Homo sapiens: one gene and its partners. The protein of the gene in region 3 purifies or fractionates together with the protein of the main gene of each other region. This does not show direct contact. Each region holds a gene or a part of one and is shown on either strand. Other genes may lie near its edges. The genes, in order: LRRC8A, SLC12A2, LGALS9B, ALCAM, ATP13A3, ADCY6 and ADCY9.

Region 1 (3,500 bases), on a different chromosome or scaffold from region 3:
CCTCTTCTGCAGACTCCTGTCCTTCTCCCTCTCTGCTCTCCACAGTGAGCAAGTCAAGGACCCATCTTCACCCATGAGCCTGGAAAGGGTGACTCCTTGGGCTTCAGGTGGATTCAAGATGGTCCCTTGGACATCCCAGAGCCCCAGACACCTGACATGAGACACACCTTGGCCTCTGAAAACCTGTGCTTCCTCCAGTCTCAACAATCCACAAAAAAAAGCTCAAGTCACTCAGACCACCCCCACCATCAACTCCCGTCCCTTTGAATTCCCCCTCCAGCGTCTCCCAGATCCGTCCATGTCTCTCCATCCCTACCTGCCTTGGCCACGCCAGGCCCCGTGGCCTCACCTGATGGCTAATCGTGGTCTCTTAACAGCTCTCTTCCACCTCCCACCTCTCACTCACCCCACCCCACACACTACCGCAAGAGGAACCTCACGCTGCAAGTCAGCTCATTCCTTCACCCACTCAATCACTAGGAATTCGGTAAACACTTGCTTGAACAAAAGAGCTAGGTCTTAGTCATCAGAGCCTATGGGCTGGCAAGGGATCGGCTGTTAAACAAATGAAGAGACAATTGAAACTGAGGTGTAGGACAGGACCCCCCTGCCATCCACACCCCCCCCCATAGCCCCACCTCTGCTCTCCAGGATGCCCACATTCCTGGGCAGCCCATCTCACTGCTCCTCCCCACCAGAACCTCCTGGACTGTCCCTTTCCCCTCCACCTGGCTTCCTCCTCCTCGTTCTTCAGGGGCCTGTTCCTCTGTGTTCCCAGGGACCTGGTGCTCCAGCAGAGCGCCTACGCACTGTGCTAACTGCCTCGTTACTTGGCCTTCTTCATCCCCATGTCCCCGGCGCCTTGCTCCATAGCTGGATTCTAGAAGTGCTCAAAAAACATCTGCACAAAGGCCAGGCGAAGTGGCTCATGCCTGTAATACCAGCACTTTGGGCGGCCAAGGTGGGAGGCTTTGAGGCCAGGAGTTTAAAGACCAGCCTAGAAAACACAGTGAGACCCTGTCTCTACCAAAAAAACAAACAAACAAAACATAACAATTTGCACACATCAGTAAACGAGTGAACGAATGAATACTGTCTTGTCAAGGCTTTCATTAGCAAGAGTATAAATCTGGAGAAACAGCACGCAAGGGCGTGGGCAGGCCACGCCCACCCCTCCTGGTCACCACTGGCCAAGGTGGCTGAGAAGGAGCCATCAAGCCCGAGTGAGGAGGAAGAGGGGCTCAGGCCTCCCACTCAGAATGAGGGGCCTGCCTGGGGTTGGCCCAAGTGAACTGTTTTCCCTATTAAGGCTCTGGTGTTCCAGGGGGTGGGGACAGGATGTGATTAAGCCATGTGCTAAACAGGGTGTCCAGAGGGTCTCCTTCCTCTGGGACAGCGTGCTTGCCGCCAGCTCCTTTCCTGAGGGGTGACCTCAGCCAGCAGGCATGACACTAACAGGCAAGCTTGGCGGGAGGAGCTGGGGGTGGGGGACAGGATGGGGAGCCAGGCTGGAGGCTTGAACCCTCCCCCAACCAGGAGGACAGCCCCAGCACAGCACCCGGGACAGGGCAGGAATGGCAGGAGCTGTGAGGAAGTCCCAGCTTATCAAGGGCAGCACTGTGCTATGGGGAAGCCACAGGGTCTCCCCCTCCACAGATTAAAGAAGGGCTGGGTTTGTTCTGTGCTTCCCAAATGTGGCTTCTCCCCAGGGGACTCCAGTTTTCCTATTCAGTGGGCCTGTCCCGAAACTACAAGAGAAAACCCTGCCCTGGTCCACTCTCCCACTGTGCTCAAGTCATAATATGGGGTGGCCGGAGATAAGGACTTGTCAAAATCCCTGATACATGTGGGTTGCAGGTTGCTCTGCAGTAAGGGAGCCCTGGGGAAGAGGGGAGGAAGGCTTCCAAGCCAGCAGGCATCTGGAGGGCCTGAAGCATCTAGTCTGAGTGATGCTGGAGAAGGTGTGTCCTGTCCTGGGGCCCAGGAGGACAGACAGGGCATTCCAGGGGCCACCTCCCTCCGTGCCTGAGGATACTATAGACAGACCGGGCATTCCAGGGGCCACCTCCCTCCGTGCCTGAGGATGCTATAGACAGACCCTGTTGGGAGGACTCAGCAGGTTGGTGGAAGGAGGACAGGTGCATCATGCCTGGCACAGGGCGAACACAGAGCAGGTGCCCACGAAACCAACAGGGACTGCACCGTGGGGCTGCTGCATGGCAGATGCACCCAACAGCAACAACCGAACTAAGAAACGCGGGTTGCCACACGGAGGCTGCAGAGGGGAGGGTGCTTAGTGAAAATGCTCTATGAGCTGCACGCTTTTTATAAGCAGGAGTGGTTTTCCTATTTGGCTCACTGCTGCTGGACCACCCTGTAAGTAAGTTCCCCCAAATAAACCCCATGTTTCAATGGCCGGCTCCAGGGCTCTTCATTTTACTTTGAGACTGGGTCTCACTCTATTGCCCAGGCTGAAGTACAGTGGTACAACCATAGCTCACTGCAGTCTTGAACTCCTAGGCTGAAGCGATCCTGCCTCAGCCTCCCAAATAGCTGGGACTACAGGCACATGCCACCATGCCTGGATCATTTCTGTATTTTTGGTAGAGATGGGGTTTCCCTATGTTGCCCAGGCTGGTCTCGAACTCCTGAGCTCAAGTGACCGCCCCACCTTGGCTTCCCTAAGTGCTCGGATTACAGGTTTGACCCACTGGGCCTGGTCAACTCCGAGTCTCTTCTTCAGCCTCCTGAACCTGGTGGCATCCCTAGTGAAGTTCACAGGGGCCCGGCACGACAGCTGCTGCTGTGTCGGGGGCAGAAGGGTGGCTGGCTGGGCTCTCCCTTGTCTCCCAGCGCCTGGCCTCAGGCTTCCTCCACCACATGTCTCACTACAGGAATCTCCACCTGGATGTGAGGCCCAGGAAAACCTGCAGGTCCCCAGGACGGGTGGAAGAGGGACGTTCCCCACAATGGCAGTGGCTTTGTTTCCATTTCGGAGGCCAGACCACAGAGCCACAGGAGTACCCAGCCCTCCATCCACACTGCCTGCCTCCACCAAGGGGCCCTTGGATGGGGGCTTCCCCAGCCAGGTAAGAGACTGGCACCCACAGACCACCAACAGTCTTGAAAGTATGTCGAAGGTGTGGCCTCCCAAACTCCCAGTGACAATGATTTGCACAATTTCCTTTTCAGAAGGGCAGGCAGAAACAAACTAGCCCCATCTAGGCCCAACTCTGCCTCTGACACCACCAAATGCAGTGGAGAAAGGTGTGTGGGAGCTGCAGAGACCATCCAAGGCTTCCCCTCAGCCAGCACTGGCCACCCACACAGTTTCTGTCCTGGGTGGACCCGGATTGGCTCCTTGCCTCCAAGTCCGACTGGGAACAAGCTGAGGAAGACACAAACTCCAGGCTAAGTCTTGACTCCCACCACCCGGCTTTGCGAGAGAACCCCCGGGTTTGGACCTCCTGCCCAAGCACATCCCTGCTGAAGAGGAACCC
Region 2 (3,500 bases), on a different chromosome or scaffold from region 3:
CCACTGGAGAGCAAGAAGCCAAAAGGGTTTTTTGGTTATAAATGTAAGTAAAAAAGATTCAATATTTTTTAAGGGTACCTATTTATAGAATTCTATCATCAATTAAATTTTGTACATTTCAGATATTTTGTAACAGAATTGACTATGGTTTGGTGATTCACCCTAATTTACAATTTAGTTTTGTCCCCTTTATGCTGTACAGTTGGAGTAAAAATTACTTCTATTTACATCTTTTCTTTTTCATTATTAGCAACAAAAGGTGATAGAATATGGAGAAATCAGTGCTGCTAAGAAAAGGAGATTTTATTCTCTACTAGTTTTGGGAATTTGTAACTGAATTTCTAACTTTTGTTCTAATATGACTTTCATTCTTTTAACATATTTAAGCACAACAGTATAAAAGCGCCTAAGATTGTGAAAGCAATTATTGGTATAATTGCATTTTTCAAGAGTGCAGGCCATTTGATTTTTAGGAGATCTCTCCAGTTGGGTTTGTCTTATTTGTTTTTATAGATTCAGGTTATTTATGTTTGTCAGGAACGTAAGTGAACCGTGTCTCCTTCTCAGTCCAGCACATTTGGAGGGTGCATGATGCAGTTTTTTATATTACTTAGTGGTGTTAGTTTTGATGACTTAGTCAAGGTTATACCTGCACAGTTTCTCTATTGTGAAGTTGCTGTTTTTTTCTTTGCAGTTAGTAAGTGATCTGTGGAAGAATACTCTGAGACTGTTCATAGCCCTGTCAAACTTCTACCAAATGGCTTCATCCTTAACCCCTCTCACATCTGGCTTTTGTTGGTTAAAATATGTCAGATGGTGATAGATGCACTATGAATTTTTTGTCCTCTGCTTCATTTCTCTTAGTCATTCCTTCTCCTTCTTGAAACATGTCTATTTTATTCGATGTCAGATACCCTAGGTGCCTAACTCACTGGTCACTATGTCCATTACTCCTGTTACCCCCTTTAAATGCAGAATTTTACAACTATTATAGTGCTGACCTTCTAACTATACACTCTCCCTTGGGTGGTGTGTATTCTCATGGCTCAAAATGCTATTAAGGGACTGACATGTTTCTATTCCTGAATCTCTCCTTTAAAGTCCAAACATAAATATATATCCAACTGATTATTTGAAGTCTCTCCTACTTATTTCTTCTCAGGCTTTTCCATCTAAGCAAGTAGCTGAAACCAGGATCTTAGTGTTTCCCGTCCTACCTGCTCCTCTTAATTTCTAATCCTTTCCTAATCAGTGTATTTATTCTCCCATCTCTAGATTGAACCTCTGCAGCAACCTCCTAATGGGCCTCCCTGTTATCAGATGTTGAATCTTTCAGTCCATTGTCCACACAACATTAATAGTATATGTCATTTGCGTGTTTATGACCCTACTTTGGTTTTCCATTTTATTTAGGATAAATTTAACTTTTATAAAATATTCACACTCTGTTCCTCAGTGGTCACTCCAATTTCATTTAATTTTTCTCCTTACTATAAGAATTTTATCTTCTTTTATTTCCTCAGAAGAGTTAAACCTTTTTCTACTTTGGGGTCTTCATATATGTTGTTTCTCTTTTCTGGTATACTCTTTTTCCCTGATGATCACATGGCTGATTCTTGCTCAGCAAACTCTTAGCTTAAGTATTGTCTCCTTCCTTATATTTGCTTAGCCTTCTGTAACCACATTGAATTAGATTCTCTCTCTCTCTCATTTGTTATTCACAAATCCCTGTTTCCATCAGAACATTTACTGCTGTTTATAATTACCTGTTATTTTGGTCATTTGCTATTGAGACTCTTAAATTCCATGAAGGCAGGAACAATGTCTAACTTGTTTATATTGCATCTCCAAGTACTTTGAGGTGCTAGAAAGCTCTAGTACAGGACCTGACACATAGTAGCTGCTGAAGTATTGAATGGATAGATGGATACATTACAGTTAGTCGGTTATCTTAGAGTCAGAGATGAAAACACTAGGTCTAGTTGAAGCTTTTATTGTTGTTGAAATAGAAAGGAACTTTACTTAGGGTAGCTAATTGTCTGACAGCCTCAAAAATCAATAGGTGACTAGACAGCAGAGAAAGCTGTGGACCAAAATCTATACAGATAGTAAAGTAAGTTGGAAGCTATCAAAAAGTTGATTCTATATTATTATGATGTTGCTTTTGTTTTCCTTTTTTTTTTTTTTCTTGAGATGGGGTCTCACTCTGTCACCCAGGCTGGAGTGCAATGGCATGATCATGGGTCACTGGAGTGTCGACTGTCCAGGCTTAAATGATTCTCTCACCCCAGCCTCCCAAGTAGCTGGGACCACAGGCATGTGCCACCACTCCTGGCTAATTTTTTAATTATTTCTAGAGTCAAGGTCTTCCTTGTGTTGCCCAGGCTGGTCTCAAACTGCTGGGCTCAAGAAATCTGCCTGCTTCGGTCTCCCAACGTGCTGAAATTACAGGCGTGAGGCACCACGCCATGCCCCCTTTTGTTTTTCTACCTCCCTTCTTGCTTCTTTTACCTCAGAGATTGAGGGGATTATCCACATTTTGATTTGCATTTGGGCTAGTCATAACAATTCATTCAGAGGCTCTTGAAACATAATTAGCGAGGTATACAAAAAATGAGACATGAATCAGATCAGATGATCATTTTGATGGTAAACCATTGTCTCATACAAGAAAAGAACACCAAATACTTGAACTGGGAAATATGCAAAAATTTACTCGTTACTTTAACTGAAGAAAAGTTAGGGGTCATGTATACCTATTATTCTTGACCTCAGTTATTATAGTCTAATTTGCTCTCCATTAATTGTCAAGAATATTTTGTTCTCTGCAGCTGAAATATTTAATGAGAACTTTGGGCCCGATTTTCGAGAGGAAGAGACTTTCTTTTCTGTATTTGCCATCTTTTTTCCTGCTGCAACTGGTATTCTGGCTGGAGCAAATATCTCAGGTGATCTTGCAGTAAGTATTATAAAGTGCTATATCAATTATATATTTTAAAAGTGGAATTTGTATATTTATTTTTACAGATAGACTTTAAAAAATCTTCTTGTCTTCTAGGATCCTCAGTCAGCCATACCCAAAGGAACACTCCTAGCCATTTTAATTACTACATTGGTTTACGTAGGAATTGCAGTATCTGTAGGTAAATAGTTTCACATTTCTTTATGTGTCGCAGAAATTTCATGATGTACGTACTATAAATACTTATTTTTATGACATTTGCTAACTTTTTTAAATACAGAAATATTTCAATAAAAAGACATGGAGTTGCTCATTATAATTCAAAAACAGTTTTTAGAAAACTAGTAATGACTTCTATAGACATTATCTAAACCGCCAAATGCTTTATGGTATCTCCAGGATTTTTATTAATTATGGTAAATTAAAAAATTATATGAAATTGCATCTATAAACTCATTCCACTGAGATACTGAAAACAATGTATGTGTAGAAGCAAATGAATTTCACTCTTACAAATTTCTGTATTTTTTTAAGATGG
Region 3 (3,500 bases):
CTGAAGGTGGTCAGGAGGGCAAAGGTCATGGTGGCCATTGTTATATGGTGGTGGTGGGGAGAGGTGCATGCCTTCTTCTTGACACTCTCTGGTGACCCTCTCGGTGGAACCTGCAGACCCTTGATGGGTCCCTTTGTTCCCTTGGGCCTCCTGAGTCCCCAGCCAGGGCGCTGGGCACTTTGCTGGGAGCTTGGCATGGGGTCCAGCAGCCCCATTGCTACCTAGTTCCTTACCAGCCCAGGGCGTCTGCCTGCTACTTCCCTGCCTGGAAGGAAGGCCTTCCGCCTGGAGCGTTCCTGGTGTGGCCTCCGCTGCCTCTCAGACTCTCACACAAGCTCAGCTCCCTGTCGCGTCCTCTCAGGGCCAGGATTCTCCTTATCACAAGCTTAGACTGTCTGAGTAACTAATTGGATTTGTGTCTGCCTCCACACAGGACCCTAAGACCCGTGGGGCTGAGACTCCTTCTGTCCTGGTCACAGCTGCACCCTAGCCCCTCGCATGGTGCGGTCACACCCAGGCCAGCCACTGACTAGCCCCGAAGGGGAGCAAACAGGAGGCCGGCCACCTGACTGAGGCCCCATGTCTTCTCCCTGCAGGCCGTCCCCTTTTCTGGGACTATCCAAGGGGGTCTCCAGGACGGATTTCAGATCACTGTCAATGGGGCCGTTCTCAGCTCCAGTGGAACCAGGTGTGTGTATATGGATGGAAACGTTTCACTCCAGCCTCGTCCCTTAGTAAAGCCACTGTGCCTGTGAGCCTCGGTTAGTTCAAACAACAACATCCAAGCTCACGTGCCTGGCGCAGGGGAGACCCAATGCATCCTTAACCCATGCCACAGGACAGCACTCCACAGGCACAACCTGCACCCAGGGATGCCATTAACCTGGACTCCAGGATGAATGGGGCCCTGGGAGCTGAAGGTCTAAGGAAGGAGTGGGATGGTCAGAGTTGGATGATTATGTTCTGGGCTGAACCTTGCACACTGTGACTGAGAGTTGCAAAAATCAAACTTCCTCCGTTTCCCATAACTGCTTTCATCCACTCTGAAGCTCTCCTTCTGCTGACATGAAAATACTGAAAATTGACATCCGAAGTAATTTGGTCTCTTTCGGTTTCAAGGCCTTTTCTGGAAACTACTAAGTCCATTCAAAATACTAACATTGTATCAGGGCTGTTTCCCACCCCTTCCTCCCTCCCAAGGTGGGCTGTCTGGGAACAGAGAGGAGCTCACGTGGCTTGTCAGTGGCTGGGAGGGCCCCCGACCCTCACGCAGGCCTGGCTGACCCCTGCCGAGGCATCCTGACTGGGTGGCACAGAGGTGTGCAGCTCTCTCCTGGTTTAGTGAGGGACCACGGGTGGCTGCCTGCTGAAGTCTGCGGGGCCCACAGAAGAGCCTCTGGACTCATGGCTCTCTCTCGGAAGCCTCTCTGCCTCAGTCCCAGTGGACCTCTCTTAAGACCCTCTGGGCCTCGTAGATGCCAGCTCAACCTCAGCTCCGCCACCTAGATTCTTGATGACCTCCTCCGCCATTGCTATCCTGCTGTCGGACTTCTCTGAGAGCCTGCAGTGCCCCCAGGAGATGCCAAGGGCAGGGAGGCCCTGATCCCCCTGAATCCTCCAACCGGGGGAATCAGAACCATGCCTCTGATCTTCCACCCCTTCCTCTTTCCCTCTCCCTCTGTTTCCCCCACCTCCCAGCACCAGGAGGGCTTCCCACTCCCATCCTGTTGCACAGAGACAGATCCTACCTCAGAGGGCCCTCTCCTCTCAGGAGCTTTCTGTCTCTCCCTTCCTTGGGGCAGGAATTTCCAAAGGGCCACAGGAATGAAGCTGAAGGTCTCCAAAGGAAAAAAATACATGCAGTGATATTTCAAATGCAATCTTCTCCATTTATTCATTTAATTAATTTATTTTTTTCTTTAGAGACAGGGACTTTTTTCTTTCACCCAGGCTGGAGTGCAGTGGTACGATCATAGCTCACTGCAGCCTCGACTTCCTGGGCTCAAGGGATCCTCCCATCTCATCCCCCAGAGCAGCTGGGACTATAGACATGCATCATGATGTCTAGCTAATTAAATATATATATATATCTTTTTGTTTTTTAAGTAGAGATGAGATCTCGCTCTGTTGCTCAGGCTGGTCTTCAACTCCTGGGCTCAAGTGATCCACCCACCTTGGCGTCCCAAAGTGCTGTGATTACAGGCGTGAGGCACTGCGCCCGGCCCCGATTTCACATGCTCTTTACATTTGTTCTCTTCTTTCGCACTTAATCAGGCATGTGCTGGCCTCCAACAAGTGTCCACTGGCACAGAAGCCTCTCTCTTCTAGGTGTGCTTAACAACTTCCATCTTTGTTACCAACTGGTAATCACTTTCCAGGACCTATGCTTCTTGTTTGCTAATGCCAGCACTTTCCCTTAGCCATTTTCTACTTATGTTTAGAAAATCGTGCTGTAAAGGCAAAATGCAATAATCGCACAAAAACACATTGGATCCAAATTAGAGAAACAAAAACGATGCCAACCAAGCAGTCTCTGCCACGCAGGTTGTATGCAAGATCCCAGACAAACACAGGGCAGAGGCACCGAGGCCCTCCTGTGCCTGTCACTGGCAATAATCCATGCCACAGAAGACTATTTGCTTTTCCTGGGCCTAGGTTTGCTGTGGACTTTCAGACGGGCTTCAGTGGAAACGACATTGCCTTCCACTTCAACCCTCGGTTTGAAGACGGAGGGTATGTGGTGTGCAACACGAGGCAGAAAGGAAGATGGGGGCCCGAGGAGAGGAAGATGCACATGCCCTTCCAGAAGGGGATGCCCTTTGACCTCTGCTTCCTGGTGCAGAGCTCAGATTTCAAGGTAAGCAGGAATCCCCTCCCCACCTCTCGCCCACGGGACTCCCAGCCCTATCAGGTGAATGTGAATGGCCTTTTAAGTAACCACTTTAATTGACATTCAGCCAGAGTGACACCACCATACAGATAACATGACCATTTCCTTGTAAGGGTGTTACCCATGGCTGTGTAGTCTCCTTACGCACCTTCACCTGAATCTACAGGTGCACCTCCTGCTTCTTTTACTCTGAAAATAAGAACTAGAGGAGTCATCACGTTGCTGTTAGGTGTTGTGTGTCTTTGAATTCCAAGCTCATTCCATTCCTCTGCTATCACCATACCTCCTCTCCAGGTCCCTGGTAACATTTATTTTTCAGCGACATTGTTCCAGCCTTTATCCAGAGTCTATTACGGTTATAGTTCTGTAAGCACATTGCAAATTACCTTTGCAAGCACAGTAGGTCTCTGGGCTTGAGAAGCCGGTGGGTAACTCAGTCTGAATATGCTTATCTGAGATAAGGATGTTCCCATCCATTCAGTATGCAACCCGATGTCACCTCTCCTCTGCTCCCCGTGAGCATTTTATGCATATTTAAATAATACCCCTGCAGTCCTAAAAAGGAATGAGATCATGTCCTTTACAGGAACATGGATGGAGCTGGAAGCCG
Region 4 (3,992 bases), on a different chromosome or scaffold from region 3:
TGCTCCGGAAATGAAGAGTGGCCGGCAGGGAAGGCAGTTACCCCGCTCAAATGAAGCCGGCCTTTGGCACCGCGCCCCCACCGGGCTCTGCTATGCAGAGGGCTCCGAAGAAGGCGCACTTACTGTCCAAGACTTGCTTCCTCAGTGTAGACACGGCGCCTTTAGTGCTGTAACCTTTCCTTTCAAAACACACTGATACTGCAATGAGAATTTCGGCAATGCCAGCTCGGTAATTCACCGAAACCACGGATCTGAGGGTCCAGGGCCGATATCGGATCCTCAGATTCACGGTGGCTGGTTGCGGTGAGCCGGGGCTAGCCGCTCGCCGAAAGCGCGCAGCTCGGTGCCCCCTGGACACACGAGCCTGTGGCGCCAAAAGAACCACCGTGAAGGAGGTCTGAAAGCGGAACTTTCCCCCTTTTAGCAGTTAAATGTGTAGAAAAACCTATCCTGCGACGTGGCCCGCCTGTGACGGCACCGAAAAGGAAACTGGTTATGTGCCTGTGTCAGGGGTGTGGACGAGGGTGAGATTACATTCTCCAAGTCTCGAGGGGGTTAATCGGAAAACCAACTGTGGGCGTGTGGACGTTTGCATGTTACAAACCGACATCACCCTTGTCCTCCCTTCTTGGCTCATTCCCTGGCTCCAAAGTGTCCTTTCCTCCATCGGACAGTGGAATCTCGAAAAAGTGAAATCCACACTGTGCCAGGCCCAAGGGGGTCTCGCCTTTCCACCTACCTCCCCAGCGTTGTTACACTAGGACACCTGCTTTAAATCCGGTTGAACTATGGTTTCACAGTCCCCGCCCCAGAGCCCGAGATTTGTCAGAGAACGCAGACGCCTTTTTTTTCCCTCAGCCTCAGAAACATCAGGTGAGCTCATTACCTCACCCAGAAATGTAACTTTAATAAAGAGATCTGGAGAGGGCACTCCTCCCGCCCACACACACAGCAACGGCAGCAGCAGCAGCAGCTCGCAAACACTTGTAATCTCTTCCTCAGGCTCTGGCCCCCAAACCCCTCTCCCCGCCAGTTCCTGGGAGAGATTCAGAGGCTTTCAAACCTCTTCTGTGACCTGAGCTTGCCGACAGCTGAAGGGATGTGCACGGATAAAAGGAAGTGAGATTTTTCTTTGATAAAAGCTAAAGAAAAAGCTAAGAACAAACAGGCCAAAATACCAGGAAGTAGGAGTTTAACTGGCAACTGTCTACGCAGGGATAGAAAAAAAAAACTTCAAAGAAAAAAAAATCCCCTAAATTTTCAGTTTAGGGGAGCAAAGGAACCTGCTGCTCTGTCAGGCAACTGTGAGCGCACGGAATACCCTGTTAGAACAACTTGTGTCAGCCGCCAGGCGGGCCTGAGGATACCAGGGCCAGGGGACGTCCCCGAGGGTGTGGAAAGGGATTTCCCGAGAGATATTTTAGTTGTTGGGAATTTTGCCTTTTCTCTCTCTCTCTCTCTCTCTCTCTCTCTCTCTCTCTCTCTTCCAAGACTCAGTACAGAACTGAGAACTGAGGCTCTATGAGCAGGTCCTGGAAATTCACAAACCTCTCACTGAGGTGTCTCCCAGGCCTACCTACTAATTCCTGTTCTGGCTGTGTTATCTGCCTGCGGTCACCCTTTCACTCACCACCCGCCCAGACAATGGACGGGGACCGCAGGGGGTAACGTTGAAACCACGATTTTAAGCTTTAGCAGGTTTCGCAAGGGGGGCGGGGGGAGGTGATTAAAGTCCTCTCCTTCTCTACCCCTCCCATCCCTTCCTCGGCTCACCAAGGGGAAGTTACTAGGGGATTTATCACGAAAAAGTGCCGGCAGTTATTTCATCCGAGAACTAAGCGAAAGAAAAACTGCTCGGGGCGCAGTGACGTGGACTTGGATACCCAGAGACAGGAGGAACTGTCAGAGGGCAAGAGTCCGCCGCCTAGCTGGGAGCCGCAGGGACAAGGGGAGAGCGTCAGGCGAATCCTGCCCACCCCGGAGCACCAAGTTCCTGGAGATTCACCCAGTTTCCCCAGCTTGATGCCCAAACTTGAGCTAACCAGCCAAGCCCAAACGTGCGGCACAGGTGACCGAGCCCGGGGACAGCTCTGTGCCAGGACAGCGGTCCCCTTACCTCCACCACGCGCCTGGGCGCACTGCCTCGGGGGTGCGAGGCTGGGACGGGGACCTAGGAAACTGCTCCAGGCCCACGTCTGTCTGGGGCTGCTCCCAGGCCCTTGCTCACCTGGCCTGAAGACGGTGGCGGAGATCAAGAGGCAGAAGAGCAGACGGCAGGAACTGGCCCCCTTGGATTCCATATTCCTCCTCCTTCTTGGTGGGCCACTGACGGAGTCCACGCCGCAGGAGGGGGCGTCGTCCCGGGCCCCGCGGTGCCCGCGCGCTGGCGGGTCCCGACGCAGGGGCAGCGTCTTCTCCCAGACACACCGTCCCCTGGGCTGTGGCGCTGCACCTTCGGTTCTCTGCCGCACGCAACTTTCCACCACGCAATGCCCCCAACTCCTCCTCCCTCCCGGTCAACACCAGCCCACGGGCCCTTCGGCTGCTCCTCCGGGGACAACGACCCTCTGTTTCCAGGAGACACTTGAGTAATTCGGAAAGGTGTAAGCGGTTCTTTTCGCTGGTATCTTCTTTTATTTTCCTTGTATTGGAATGATAATAATAATGGCAGTGGCAATGTGCATGAAACGCCAGGTGCTAAGAAGGACTCGCAGGAGGCGGCGACGGGGGGGCGGCGGGTCTCCTCAGGTGGCAGCGGTGGTAGCAGCGGCAGCGGCGGCAGCGGTCTCCGGGCTGCTCTGAGTAGAGGGACTGGAAGGCGTGTGTAAGCTGCCTCTTTCCTCCTCTCCCCGCCTCCTCCCTCCCTCCCGTCTCCTCCCCACTTCCCCGGACGCAGCGCAAAGCAGGTGGTTGAAGCGCGGATCCGCAGCCTAGAGGCGCTGCAGGACTGAGTCCGAGCCCTGAGCCCAGCTCCGGGATCAGGGAGAACCGCGTGCCCCGGTCCTGGAGCCCGGATGAGCGGTGCTTCACCGCGGCTCCGCCCCCAGGGCCAGGTCCGCCAATAAGAAGCAAGCACAGGAGCCGCGCGCGCCAGGGAGAGCCCTGGGACTAACACTTTCTGTGATGTTGCAGCGCCCCAGTGATAAGGCCTCTGGCTTCCAACTGCCCACCCACCCTCGCTGAGGTTTAAAAATCGACTGCCCTCTCCCTCCACCCATACGCCCATCCCACTGACTCATTCCTCAGAGATTTTTCTCCGCCGTGCTGCTGCAGCCTTCTGTCCTGTAAAGAGAATAGTGGGGCAGGGCGGTGGCGGTGGGGAGCGAACCTTGGGTCCAAGAGCGGGAGTGAAGGGAAAAGGAAAGGAAAGGGCAGGAGGAAGTGGCAAAGGTGGAAACTTGCTTCTTGGGAGTTAACAGGAATAGCTACTTGTTGGCAGGGGCAACCCCTGTACTGGACTGATTCCTCCTGTACTTTTCGAATCTCTCTCCTCCCCCTGCTCACCCCCACCACTCCCCTCACACCCGGCTGGCATAGACTTGGTTTTAAAGGAAGACTACGTGAGTCGACTGCCCGGTACCAACAGAAGATATTTGCTTTTCCCGGGGGAAATTAAATCCGGAATTTCTAAACCGTACTTCGTCATACGGATTTTCCCAATGTCTACAAAAGCCCTCTAGAGAGCGTGTCACTTTTTTACTTTGAGTTAAGCGGTGATTTTAAGTTATAGACAGAAAATCCTCAAATTATTTCAGATTAAAAGCCAAGTCCGTCTTGGTCCGTTCCCGAAAGCCAGGCACTCCAGCAGATGGACAGGCTTCTTAGGCAATTTCTAAAGATTGAACCACCTCCCAGGAGGAACATCGGGAAGCTGTGTTGCTTTCAAATCAGGCAGAGAGCATGAAGGAAGATTTTCCTCTAGAACACCGGGGTGGAGCTGTCGGAGCCCTAAGTGGCTCTAAATCAGGGATGCAGGATCACAACTCTCATCA
Region 5 (3,500 bases), on a different chromosome or scaffold from region 3:
GTTTTAAAGTACAAGAATTCCAGATGTTTATCGTATTCTTCAGGTAACTAGTGGTAAATGATGCAGGTGGTCCATCATACTCAGTTCATGCATCATTTCAAATTGAAGCTGATATTTAATTGAGTTTCTTTTTACTTTGAATAAATGTCCGGCTTTCATCATGTTGTGGAACATATCAAATGAAAGAATTCAGTTTTAGAACAAATATGTTTAAAATAGAATTGTTTTACTTGGTTTGGTTGCCTAAATATTGTTCCCAATGTCTCATATACACAGGCTATTCCGGTTAAATTGGTCCATGATAGCTTAGAGGATCTTCAAATGACTCGTTATCATTTTGCAATGAATGGAAAATCATTCTCAGTGATACTGGAGCATTTTCAAGACCTTGTTCCTAAGGTAAGTAATTTGGGTGTATGTGTGTGCTCACATGAATGCATCGCAACAGTATTTTAAAAAAATTTGTATTATTGTTTCCAGTTGATGTTGCATGGCACCGTGTTTGCCCGTATGGCACCTGATCAGAAGACACAGTTGATAGAAGCATTGCAAAATGTTGAGTAAGTATTGGTGTCTTTTTTGGTTTTGGTTTTTGATGAATGATGGTTTCATTTCAGCATCAGAAAAATAATTTTTATATGTTTCTTATACTAATATTTCATATTTATATATATAATTGTGATCTATAAGATAGTTCAGAACTTTAAGTGCCGCTTTAAAAGAGTCTCATGTGCTTTTTATTTAGCTAAAGTACAATATCCACAGTTTTTTCTCTATGACTTCATTCTTTCAGGTGCTCTATCTTGATAGAAGTGGCTAATCATTTTAGTAAACAGTTATGTTTCAGGTTATTAAGGGATAAATTTTTACTGATAACGTTAAAAGTAGCCATACTAAAGACTGTAGGCACAAGCGCTTTGCTCTAAAGATGAGGAAATTGAGACACCAAAATGATTTGCCGATAATGTGACAGAAATAGGACAATAACCTAGCTCATTTCACTTGTGGTCTGGTGCTGTTTGCAAAGCAGCACACCTGTGTTCATTATAGTGAAAAGATTCATAGTTCCACTGGGGGAATCTTGGTGTGTTAGCTCTTTATAATACTGTAATAGAAAAGTCTTAATAAGTTAAATGTTTTGTAGTTTAAGAAATTAATTAAAATCTTAACATTGTTTTGTTTCTTAGTTATTTTGTTGGGATGTGTGGTGATGGCGCAAATGATTGTGGTGTAAGTATAGTTTTTGTGATTTAGTTTTATAGTTCTTACTCTAGCCTAAATCATATTCACAAAACTTAACCAGTTTTCTTAAAATTATTAGGCTTTGAAGAGGGCACACGGAGGCATTTCCTTATCGGAGCTCGAAGCTTCAGTGGCATCTCCCTTTACCTCTAAGACTCCTAGTATTTCCTGTGTGCCAAACCTTATCAGGTAGTACAAATTAAAATTTTTCTCATCCCTTTTTCTCTGTCTCTGATAATACAGAAGAGAAAATTATCATAAAAAGTAACATGAATTTGTTTAATATTAGCAGATTAGCACATTTGAGCTGTAACTTATTAGTAACAGATTGATTGCTACTCCTCATTTGGTTTAGTTCTTTTGGTGGATAAGCACTTTGTTGTAGCCGTTGAATGTTGATGTTCATCTGTCAAGATAAAATTGTGGTTTGGAAAAGGAGTTTAAAATGCTTCTATTCATATGCCGACATTTGATTTCTTTTCACAGGGAAGGCCGTGCTGCTTTAATAACTTCCTTCTGTGTGTTTAAATTCATGGCATTGTACAGCATTATCCAGTACTTCAGTGTTACTCTGCTGTATTCTGTGAGTATTAACATTGTGTGCAGAGATAACACTTAATGTGCACCGTAAATTAAGATGTTGAGCGTATGTGTTTGATTTTGAATGCATCCATTAGTAATTGTTTCTGTGAGTAGTACCTATAAATTTACCTTCAATTTACTGTAGTTTGAATAGCAAATTGAAAAAGTTAAAATGAGAAAAGATGTTTCAACAGTGGTTTGTTGAATTTGGAGAATGGTTTGCATTTGGAGAAAAAGTATAAACAGCGATGGCCACAGGTACCCTATCAGATTTTATAATCAAAGTGTTCTGACATCCTAAAGACTCATGGTGACACTATCCCATTTGACCGTTTGTAGAAAGTATCAGAAGGGATGGTATTAGATGAAGATACTAATTTACAACGTTGAATATTTTGAGTAAATGTTTGTGTTTTCTTTTTGCCAAAAAAACCATGTTGGCCAGGGTGGTCTCGATCTCTTGACCTAGTGATCTGCCCGCCTCGGCCTCCCAAAGTGCTGGGATTACAGGTGTGAGTCACCGCGCCCAGCCTATTGAACGAATTTTAAGGAGATGCCTTTTATACTAATATACTAAATCAAATATTTATAAATATATGTTATATTTAGTTTCAGAGACACTTATATTTCAATTTTTAAGCAGGTCCGAGTGTCATTTTTAAGTTGTCATTATAGGGAAAATCCAAACTATTAATAAAACCTGGGGACGCTATAAAAATAATTCCCAAAAACTAATAATGTTTTTAAAATTACTTCTGTAGATCTTAAGTAACCTAGGAGACTTCCAGTTTCTCTTCATTGATCTGGCAATCATTTTGGTAGTGGTATTTACAAGTGAGTATTTTGCTTTGTTATTGATTTTTAAAGTGTATGAAATTCTGATGTGACTTATTAAATTTTTGTAAATTTACATCAACAATTGTAACATAGCTCACACCTCTCCAGATTCCTTGTAAATATGTTATTTTATTACCAGTTGTTTATATCTTGCGCCAATTTTTTAATTGTTCTGTCTCTATTTTTTTCCCTGAAATATTTGAAAATAAGTTTTGAGTCATTATGCTCTTTTGCCTCTGACAATTTTAGTATATATTTTCTAAAAGCAAAACCATTCTTTTATGTAACTAAATACAGTTGTAAAGATCAGGAAATTTAACATTGATATAATATCTGGTGCAAAACCTATATTCAGGTTTTGTCATTTGTGTCAACAATGTCCTTTATGCCTATTTTCCCGTAGTCCCCTAGATTAGAACAAAAAATATCTCCAGACATTGCCAGATGCTCCTTTGGGGTGCAAAATCCTCCAGTTGAGAACCACTTATCTTTAGTAGATGATAAAACTAGTGAAAGTTTGATGAGGAGCAGGATTTTCACAGTCTCAAAGTATCTTTTCACAAGGTGCTAGTTACAAAGGGAAAAATAGAAATTTCTTTTTTTCTTTTTTTTTTTTTTTTTGAGACAGAGTCTGTCTCTGTCACCCAGGCTGGAGTGCAGTGGCACGATCTCAGCTCACTGCAACCTCCGCCTCCCGAGTTCAAGCGATTCTCCTGCCTCAGCCTCCTGAGTAGCTGGGATTACAGGTGTGCACCATCATGCCCTGCTAATTTTTATATTTTTAGTAGAATCGGGGTTTCACCATGTTGGCCAGGCCAGTCTCTAACTCCTGACCTCAA
Region 6 (3,500 bases), on a different chromosome or scaffold from region 3:
GTCAGGGAAAAGGAGGATCTCGGCTCCCCCCAGCCCCATCCCAGGGTGCAAGTGCCTTCTCCCTCCTCAGTAACCTGACTTACTTGTCTTTGCTGGAATCATCAATGCCCTGGAGAAAGGGACAGAGTGTGGAGTGAGGTGAAGGGCCAACAACCTTCATCTCTGCAGCTCCTTCCCCCACCCCAACACTGTGCTGAGGGTGTCCCCGTCATATCCTCTGGGGGCACTGGGACCCGAGATGAAATCTTCTCACTGCCCCAATACCAGAAAGCATACATGGAAATGGCAGTCACAAGAAAGGACAGGGTCAGGGACAGGGTATTGAGGGAGCTAAGAAAATGAGGCCCTAGGTCTGGTGCTGAGGGCCCCTCACCATCTGGCGGAAGGCCTTGGAGTCCTTGGTCCGGGAGAAGGCACGATCAGGAACCCAGCGCGGCATCAGCCCTTCCATGGAGTTGGCCCGAGTCCGCTGCAGCTTGGCCAGCATGGCCTTCTCCTCTTTCTGTGCGGGCAGCATGGGTACAGGCTCAGAAGAGGGGCCCAGAGGAGGCCTTGGCCTGCTCCTCCCCATTTGTCCCTCTTCTTGCTCCCCTGCCCCCAGCCCTGCCCTGGCCCTGACCCGTTTCTGGCTGGCGCCCAGGATGAGGAAAGTCTCAATGTGCTGCTCCTTGAGGTACGCGTTGCGCTCGCCACCACGGCCTGGCTCCACCTCGTAGTCCCCGTTCAGGTACTGCAGTGTTGCCCGAGTGATGTGGATGCGGCTGTATGTGGCCAAGAGGGTGAGACCCTGGCTCTCCCACCTTGCCCCCATCCCCCCCACCTGGACCCCCCTACTCACCCAGCCCGGCCTCCTGCCTCCATGTGGTTGGCCAGGGTCACATCATTGGACCACACATCGAACTGCCATTTCCGCAAGCCAAGGACGCCGCAGTGCACGCGCCCGCTGTGGATGCCCACGCGCATGTTCACATTCACACCTGTCACCTCACGTACCAGCCTGGGAGGATGCAGCCCCAGATCAGCTCCTGGCAGTCTTCCCCTCCCCCAGCCCACAACCCAGGCCCTTCACTCCTCTCAGGGCCCAGCGGGCAAGGACAGACCCAGATGCAGGGGACGGGAGCACAGCCTTGGTTGGACATGAGCAGAAGGCTGCATGGGGCTCAAGGACAAATGTTAAGGCTGTGTTCAACAGCAGGGGCCCAGCAGCATCTTATGGAACTGAGCTAGGAGAAGAGGAATCACTGTTATCCCCTCTGGCCTGCACAGATGGCATTCCCTCTAGCCCAACTCCCCTACTGCATAGGCTCTCCCGGCCCCATCTCGGCTGGCTGGGAGTCTAGGGGTCCGCATGGGTCTTTGCACAGGTTGGAGAAAGATTCCCCTTCCCAGTGACAGACAGACCTCAAAGACAGAGAAAGCCAAAACTGAGGAAATCTCCTGAGGTCTCATCAAAAAGTAGGAGCAGTCTGGGGCACCCGCAATTCCAGGAAGCCTAGGAATGGGGCACTGCTTACGAGATGGCCTCAATCATGTCTACCCCCATCTCCACACAGCAGTGGGCATGGTCGGCCCGGGCCTCCGGCAGCCCTGACACACAGTAGTAACAGTCCCCCAAGATCTTGATCCTCAGGCAGTGATTCTCCTGAATGGGAAGGAATTGGAGGGAAGGGTAACCTTTACTCTCTTGCCCACCCAGCCTGCATGGCCCACCACCCTCCACGCATACTCTATCTGCCCTCAAATCCCCAGCTGCTGCCAGCAAAGCTATGCTCTCACCACGGTCAACACCCAGGCCCAATCCCAAGGCCCAGCACCCTCACCGCAGCCAGCTTGTCAAACCGGGCAAAGAGCTCATTCAGGGTCATGACCAGCTCCTGCGCAGTGCACTGGGATGCCAGGCTGGTGAAGCCCTCAATGTCTGCAAACAGGATGCTGTAGATGACAGCAGAGGATGAACAGAACACATAGCCCTCAAAGACTTCCAGACCCCCCGCCCTGCTGGGCATCCTCCTACCCTCACCCTACCTGACATTGTCATGCTTCTGTATGTAGATCTTGTGGAACATCATGTCTTCTTTTTTTGTGTTGATGTCTTCTTTCATCTCCATGGCAACGTGCTGGGGCAATACCGACAGCAGCAGCCGCTCCTAGCCCAGTGGTTCCAATAGGGCATCACTATACTCTTGGTCTCACATTGCAATCCCTCCTGGTCTCTCCACATCGCCAGAGCCCTCCTAGACTTCTCTGAAGACCTGACCTTCCCTTCTGGACTGTGGCCTGACCTTCCCCCATCAGAGCCCCCTCTGACCACCCTCCATTGAGCCCCCAGATGTGCTCCTGTCTACGCCCTCCTTCCCTTGGACAGGACAAAACCCCAGTATCACAGGGCCTCTGTGACGCACAACCCAGGGGAACCATCACACTGTGCTGCACGGAACTGGACAAGGCAGCAGATCCAATGTGCAAGTTATTTGGGGGTAAGGTGGGGGCAGGCCCTGGTCACGGGGAGCAGCCCCACCTGCTGCCGATTCTCATGCTGCAGGTGGAGCCGGGCCTGGATGTAACCGCGGGTCTCCTGAAAGGCCTGGCGCTGAGACACCTCTGCTGGATAGTGTGTGCAGATGCCAATGACGTTGGTGCAGAGGAACAGCAGCACATTGGCACCGAGCTGCAGGAGGTGGCAGAGGCAGACAGTGACCATCTCCTCTGCCTGCCCCCCTAAACACACACACACATTCACACAACTTGCTAGGTTCTCTGAGGAAGGAAGCCAGGGTCCTGCACCCTGTCTGTCCCCAAGCCACTGCCACCCCTGCAATATATCTCTCCCATTACCCACAGGACCCCAGATCCCAGCCAACTGCCTGAATCCTCCATGACTAGAAATGAGATCTTTTCACAGCTTCTGGAAGCAGAAGACCAACTAGGGCCAGATAAGTCATGGGGCCCAGCCCCAGCACCCTGTATCTCCTGCTCCTCAAACACCCCACACAAAAGACAAACGCTGCTCCTTTTGCAGGTGCTCCTCCTTAAGGACAGCACCCAGGAGACCTGAGCTCTACATCCTCCTGTGAGTGACCCAGGACAAGTCACCTCCTCTCTCTTGGGTTTGCTCATCTATAACCCAAAGAGGAAGAATGAGAAGATCTCTAAAGCCTCTCCCTGACTTGACATAACTTAGTAACAATAATCACCATTGTCATTATTATTATGGTAGCTAGTTTGTTGGCTGCCTACCATATGCCAGGATTCTGTAGGTGTCTTCTATACACTGAATAACACATTTTTTTTTTTTTTTTTTTTTTTTTTGACAGAGCCTTGCTCTGTCACCCAGACTGGAGTGCAGTGGCCTGATCTCGGCTCACTGCAACCTCCGCCTCCCAGTTCAAGCGATTCTCCTGCCTCAGCCTCCAGAGTAGCTGGGATTACAGCCACCTGCCACCATGACTGGCTAATTTTTGTATATTTTTTTAGTAGAGACGGGGTTTCACCATGTTGGT
Region 7 (3,500 bases), on a different chromosome or scaffold from region 3:
ATGAACAACTAACAATCGTCCGCCCCCACAGAGAAGCACAGGGCCCAGCCATACCCACCTCTCCGCTCTGCCCTGGTGCTCTTCTGTCCACCTGGAGAGCCACAGCCTGATCTCAGGACCCAGCTCCAGCAGGAGCCCCCTCTAAAGCGCTCCCCACTCCCGAACATACTCCACAACATTTTTAACTGTGAGCTCACGGAGGTTGGGAACTATTAACGCAGGTCAGACGCGCCCCAAAGTGGGGCCGAGCCCAAGAGGGTTCTTGGCTTTGCCCAGGAAATAATTCAAGGGTGAGCCGGTGGCAGGAAAGAAAACACCTTTATTGAAGAGGCAGGCAGTGTTATACGGCTCCATGACTGCTCCTGCAGAGCTGGGCTTTCCCAAAGGCGGAAAGTAGCAGCTCAGGGCAGTTTTGCAATCATACTTATACCTACTTTTTTTTTTTTTTTTTTTTTTTTTTGAGACGCAGTCTCGCCTAGGCTGTCGCCCAGGCTGGAGTGCAGTGGACATGATCACAGCTCACTGCAACCTCCACCTCCTGGGTTCAAGCGATTCTTCTGCCTCAGCCTCCCGAGCACCTGGGATTACAGGCGCACACCACCACACCAGGCTAATTTTTGTATTTTTAGTAGAGACGGGGTTTCACTATATTGGCCACACTGGTCTCCAACTCATGACCACAGGTGATCCACCCGCCTTGGCCTCCCAAAGTGCTGGGATTACAGGCATGAGCCACTGCGCCCAGCCTTACCTTATACCTACTTTTAATTTCCTGTAGAGTAAAGGTAGGCTTAGGCAGACACTTCTAGGAAAAGGGTGGTGGCTTTTGGGTTGTCAGGTCACGGCCATGGAAAGAGGCAGTAACTCCGGGTGTGGCCATGGCGACAGTAAACTAACAAGGCACACTGGTGGGCGTGCCTTGCAGAACGCTGCTTCTGCCCCATCCCTGTATCAGCTAGTCCTCAATTCGGTCTGGCATCTGAACCCCGCCTCTGGAGTCGAGTCCCACCTCCTACCTCACGATCACGGATCCTGCTCCACGATCACGGATCCTGCTCCACATCCACAGTGCCAGGTGCACAGTCAGTGCCAGGGGCACGACACAGATTTCAGAGTGAAGGAATGTGCAGAAATCATGAAACTACCCTTCTGCAAAGCCTGTTCGGATAAATTTGAATGAGAGGAGCTTCCTTCTGTGCTCCCAGGCTAGTTCTAGAAGCCCCTTCTCATTCTATGGATGCCCATTCCTGCAGGGCCGCTACTGGCTGCTTTTTAACCCTGGGATCAGAAAAGGGGGTAAGAGGGAAAGGCTAATACACCCAGTATTGGGGTTTTTTTTGTTTTTGTTGTTGTTGTTTTTTAAGACAGAGTTGCTCTGTCGCCCAGGCTGGTGTGCAGTGGCGCAGCCTCGGCTCACTACAACCTTCTCTTCCCGGGTTCAAACAATTCTCCTGCCTCAGCCTCCCGTAATACCCAATATTGTATAGAGAAAACATCTGCCACCAGCCCAAAGGCAGAGGCTAAAATCGATCTTACATGTAGATAAGCTTAACTATGTGTGTGAAAGGGTCTTCTACAAACTGTGCTGTCATCTCAATTTAGCTTTGTAAGGACAGTTTCCAAAAGGGCCAGGAAGTTGTGTAGACATACTCTATTCCTGGAGTCCTATCCACAAAGGTTTGTAAAATGAGCTCAAGAAAACAAAATCGTGGTCTCAGAGAAAGAGCTAAAGGAAAGAATATCACTTTTAAAAAATCAGCAGCTAAGCTAAGCCTTCTATCTTCCCTACTCCCTACAGTACTAAAACTTTTATAAATATACAATGTACACAAATGTCAAGAAAAGTTAATTTACCAAATTTACACTATTTGAGGTTTAAAAAAAAAAAAACACAAACTCACTCTAGCATTTTTTTTTTTTGGCTCTGTGTCTGAGACCCCTGATCTACAAACTTAAAAATAAAACTACTCATAAATTCACAAAATAGGTATTCAATGACTTGGCAATTTCCAAACATATTTAATAATTACACCCTCTTCATTTTTGAAATTCGAGTAATACAGCATACAAAGTACAGCTTACAAAACGTTCTCATTGTCCTCTGGGCCAACATATTTAATTTAACGTACTGCCGCCCAGCTCCACCGTCCCACAGTCTCCAAGGACAGAGCTCACAACACCTGGGCCCTAAAAATGCCAAGGTGGCAAGCAGGGGGTTACACCCACAGCCCCGTCCACTGACACCTTCAGACTCAAGAGCGAGTGCCACCGCCCTAAACGGAAAGACACTCATCACGGCAGCATCTTTCAAGTGAACAGAAAGTGTAGTTTCTGACCTTGTTAACATAGTCCTTAAAGTGCTCTAGGTTAGGGGAATTCTCGGGTGAAAATAGTTTTCGTCTACATCCATAAAATCTTCAACAGCAAAGTTAGTAAAATAAAGAAAAATCAGAAGAAAGATGATGTTCCCTTGCCAGAGAACAAATACATAAAAGATACAGGAGCTCAGATCACAAGCCAGAGAAAGAGAATGCCAACTGGACACATAGGATGATCTCACACCAACGACCTATGCAGGCCCTACCTCAACCACTGGACGTCTCTGACTGACACTATTACTTCTGCCGTCTCTGATTGAAACTATTACTTCTGCCATCTCTGATTGGAACTATTAATTACTTCTTCCGAGGATTCCCTTTCCTGAGGCTTTTAACTGTTTAAGTATGCAGTGTGTGGGGACCACAAAATACAATACAGCTTCACAAAAGCAGGCTTTTAAAAAAAATCAGTGTTATTTTCTCTACATACTTCCACAACAGATGTTCCCCTCAATCCTGAAGATTTTAGTAAAACATAAGGACTGTTTAAAAAGGAGGAAGTGGGGGAAGAAATGTAGCAGATTACTTAAAATCTTTCTTTTTCGTCCTACTTATTTTAATATCATTTTCCAGATCTCAAAGACTTTTGTCCTATATTAGAAAAAACAAGCAGCCCAGTAAAAACATCAAGAATAGCAGTAAGGAGCTTCAAACCAGGGACCAGGCACCAGATCCAAACCTGAGAGGATGAGGGAGGGGAATACCAGCTCTCCGGCAGGTACGTTTCTCCCTTCCAAATCACCTGGTGGCTGGAGAAGCTCAATATGAAGCTCTTCACTTAAGGCAAATACTATGATAATAAAATATCCTTAAACAAATGATGGCTGAAAGCTGAAAATGCAAACTTTTTTTAAAAAAAAAAAAAGACCTAGATAAAAGACAGTGTGTACTCAGAGGTAAGTAACTCCGTCTAATTCTCCAGAGACCTGCAGGACTGCGCCGACTTCCTATCCCTATTTTGAGGATAAGCAAAGTGAGGCCTAGAGAGGAGAAAGATTTTATTCTCCACGTTTTCGCAAAAAGGGCAGAGAGAAACATTTGGATGGGACTTCAGGGTGACCAAATGAATGCAAAGGCAATTTCCTTAAGTGCTAAACAGTGCTGAATGCTGAAGGGCTCCAT

Evidence for each region.
Region 1: the proteins of LGALS9B (region 3) and LRRC8A purify together in Homo sapiens (affinity purification with mass spectrometry; one large-scale study listed by BioGRID and IntAct). This does not show direct contact.
Region 2: the proteins of LGALS9B (region 3) and SLC12A2 purify together in Homo sapiens (affinity purification with mass spectrometry; one large-scale study listed by BioGRID and IntAct). This does not show direct contact.
Region 4: the proteins of LGALS9B (region 3) and ALCAM purify together in Homo sapiens (affinity purification with mass spectrometry; one large-scale study listed by BioGRID and IntAct). This does not show direct contact.
Region 5: the proteins of LGALS9B (region 3) and ATP13A3 purify together in Homo sapiens (affinity purification with mass spectrometry; one large-scale study listed by BioGRID and IntAct). This does not show direct contact.
Region 6: the proteins of LGALS9B (region 3) and ADCY6 purify together in Homo sapiens (affinity purification with mass spectrometry; one large-scale study listed by BioGRID and IntAct). This does not show direct contact.
Region 7: the proteins of LGALS9B (region 3) and ADCY9 purify together in Homo sapiens (affinity purification with mass spectrometry; one large-scale study listed by BioGRID and IntAct). This does not show direct contact.

Annotation. Positions count from the first base shown.
Region 1 is NC_000009.12:128,909,633-128,913,132, reverse strand, and holds part of LRRC8A (volume-regulated anion channel subunit LRRC8A), read right to left. Parts: exon of another isoform or gene 3,193-3,500; intron 3,090-3,192; exon of another isoform or gene 1-3,089. UniProt on the Homo sapiens protein: Essential component of the volume-regulated anion channel (VRAC, also named VSOAC channel), an anion channel required to maintain a constant cell volume in response to extracellular or intracellular osmotic changes.
Region 2 is NC_000005.10:128,135,766-128,139,265, forward strand, and holds part of SLC12A2 (solute carrier family 12 member 2), read left to right. Parts: coding exon 1-43; intron 44-2,831; coding exon 2,832-2,959; intron 2,960-3,058; coding exon 3,059-3,143; intron 3,144-3,500. UniProt on the Homo sapiens protein: Cation-chloride cotransporter which mediates the electroneutral transport of chloride, potassium and/or sodium ions across the membrane. Plays a vital role in the regulation of ionic balance and cell volume.
Region 3 is NC_000017.11:20,457,540-20,461,039, reverse strand, and holds part of LGALS9B (galectin-9B), read left to right. Parts: intron 1-596; coding exon 597-688; intron 689-2,655; coding exon 2,656-2,857; intron 2,858-3,500.
Region 4 is NC_000003.12:105,365,717-105,369,708, reverse strand, and holds the start of ALCAM (CD166 antigen isoform 1 precursor), read right to left. Parts: upstream 2,801-3,992; 5' UTR 2,301-2,800; coding exon 2,228-2,300; intron 1-2,227. UniProt on the Homo sapiens protein: Cell adhesion molecule that mediates both heterotypic cell-cell contacts via its interaction with CD6, as well as homotypic cell-cell contacts. Promotes T-cell activation and proliferation via its interactions with CD6.
Region 5 is NC_000003.12:194,428,003-194,431,502, reverse strand, and holds part of ATP13A3 (polyamine-transporting ATPase 13A3), read left to right. Parts: intron 1-276; coding exon 277-399; intron 400-480; coding exon 481-560; intron 561-1,187; coding exon 1,188-1,230; intron 1,231-1,321; coding exon 1,322-1,431; intron 1,432-1,728; coding exon 1,729-1,825; intron 1,826-2,585; coding exon 2,586-2,658; intron 2,659-3,500. UniProt on the Homo sapiens protein: ATP-driven pump involved in endocytosis-dependent polyamine transport. Uses ATP as an energy source to transfer polyamine precursor putrescine from the endosomal compartment to the cytosol.
Region 6 is NC_000012.12:48,775,590-48,779,089, forward strand, and holds part of ADCY6 (adenylate cyclase type 6), read right to left. Parts: intron 2,669-3,500; coding exon 2,519-2,668; intron 2,148-2,518; coding exon 2,026-2,147; intron 1,933-2,025; coding exon 1,821-1,932; intron 1,643-1,820; coding exon 1,515-1,642; intron 998-1,514; coding exon 839-997; intron 762-838; coding exon 620-761; intron 503-619; coding exon 374-502; intron 110-373; coding exon 84-109; intron 1-83. UniProt on the Homo sapiens protein: Catalyzes the formation of the signaling molecule cAMP downstream of G protein-coupled receptors. Functions in signaling cascades downstream of beta-adrenergic receptors in the heart and in vascular smooth muscle cells.
Region 7 is NC_000016.10:4,109,943-4,113,442, forward strand, and holds part of ADCY9 (adenylate cyclase type 9), read right to left. Parts: intron 1-3,500. UniProt on the Homo sapiens protein: Adenylyl cyclase that catalyzes the formation of the signaling molecule cAMP in response to activation of G protein-coupled receptors.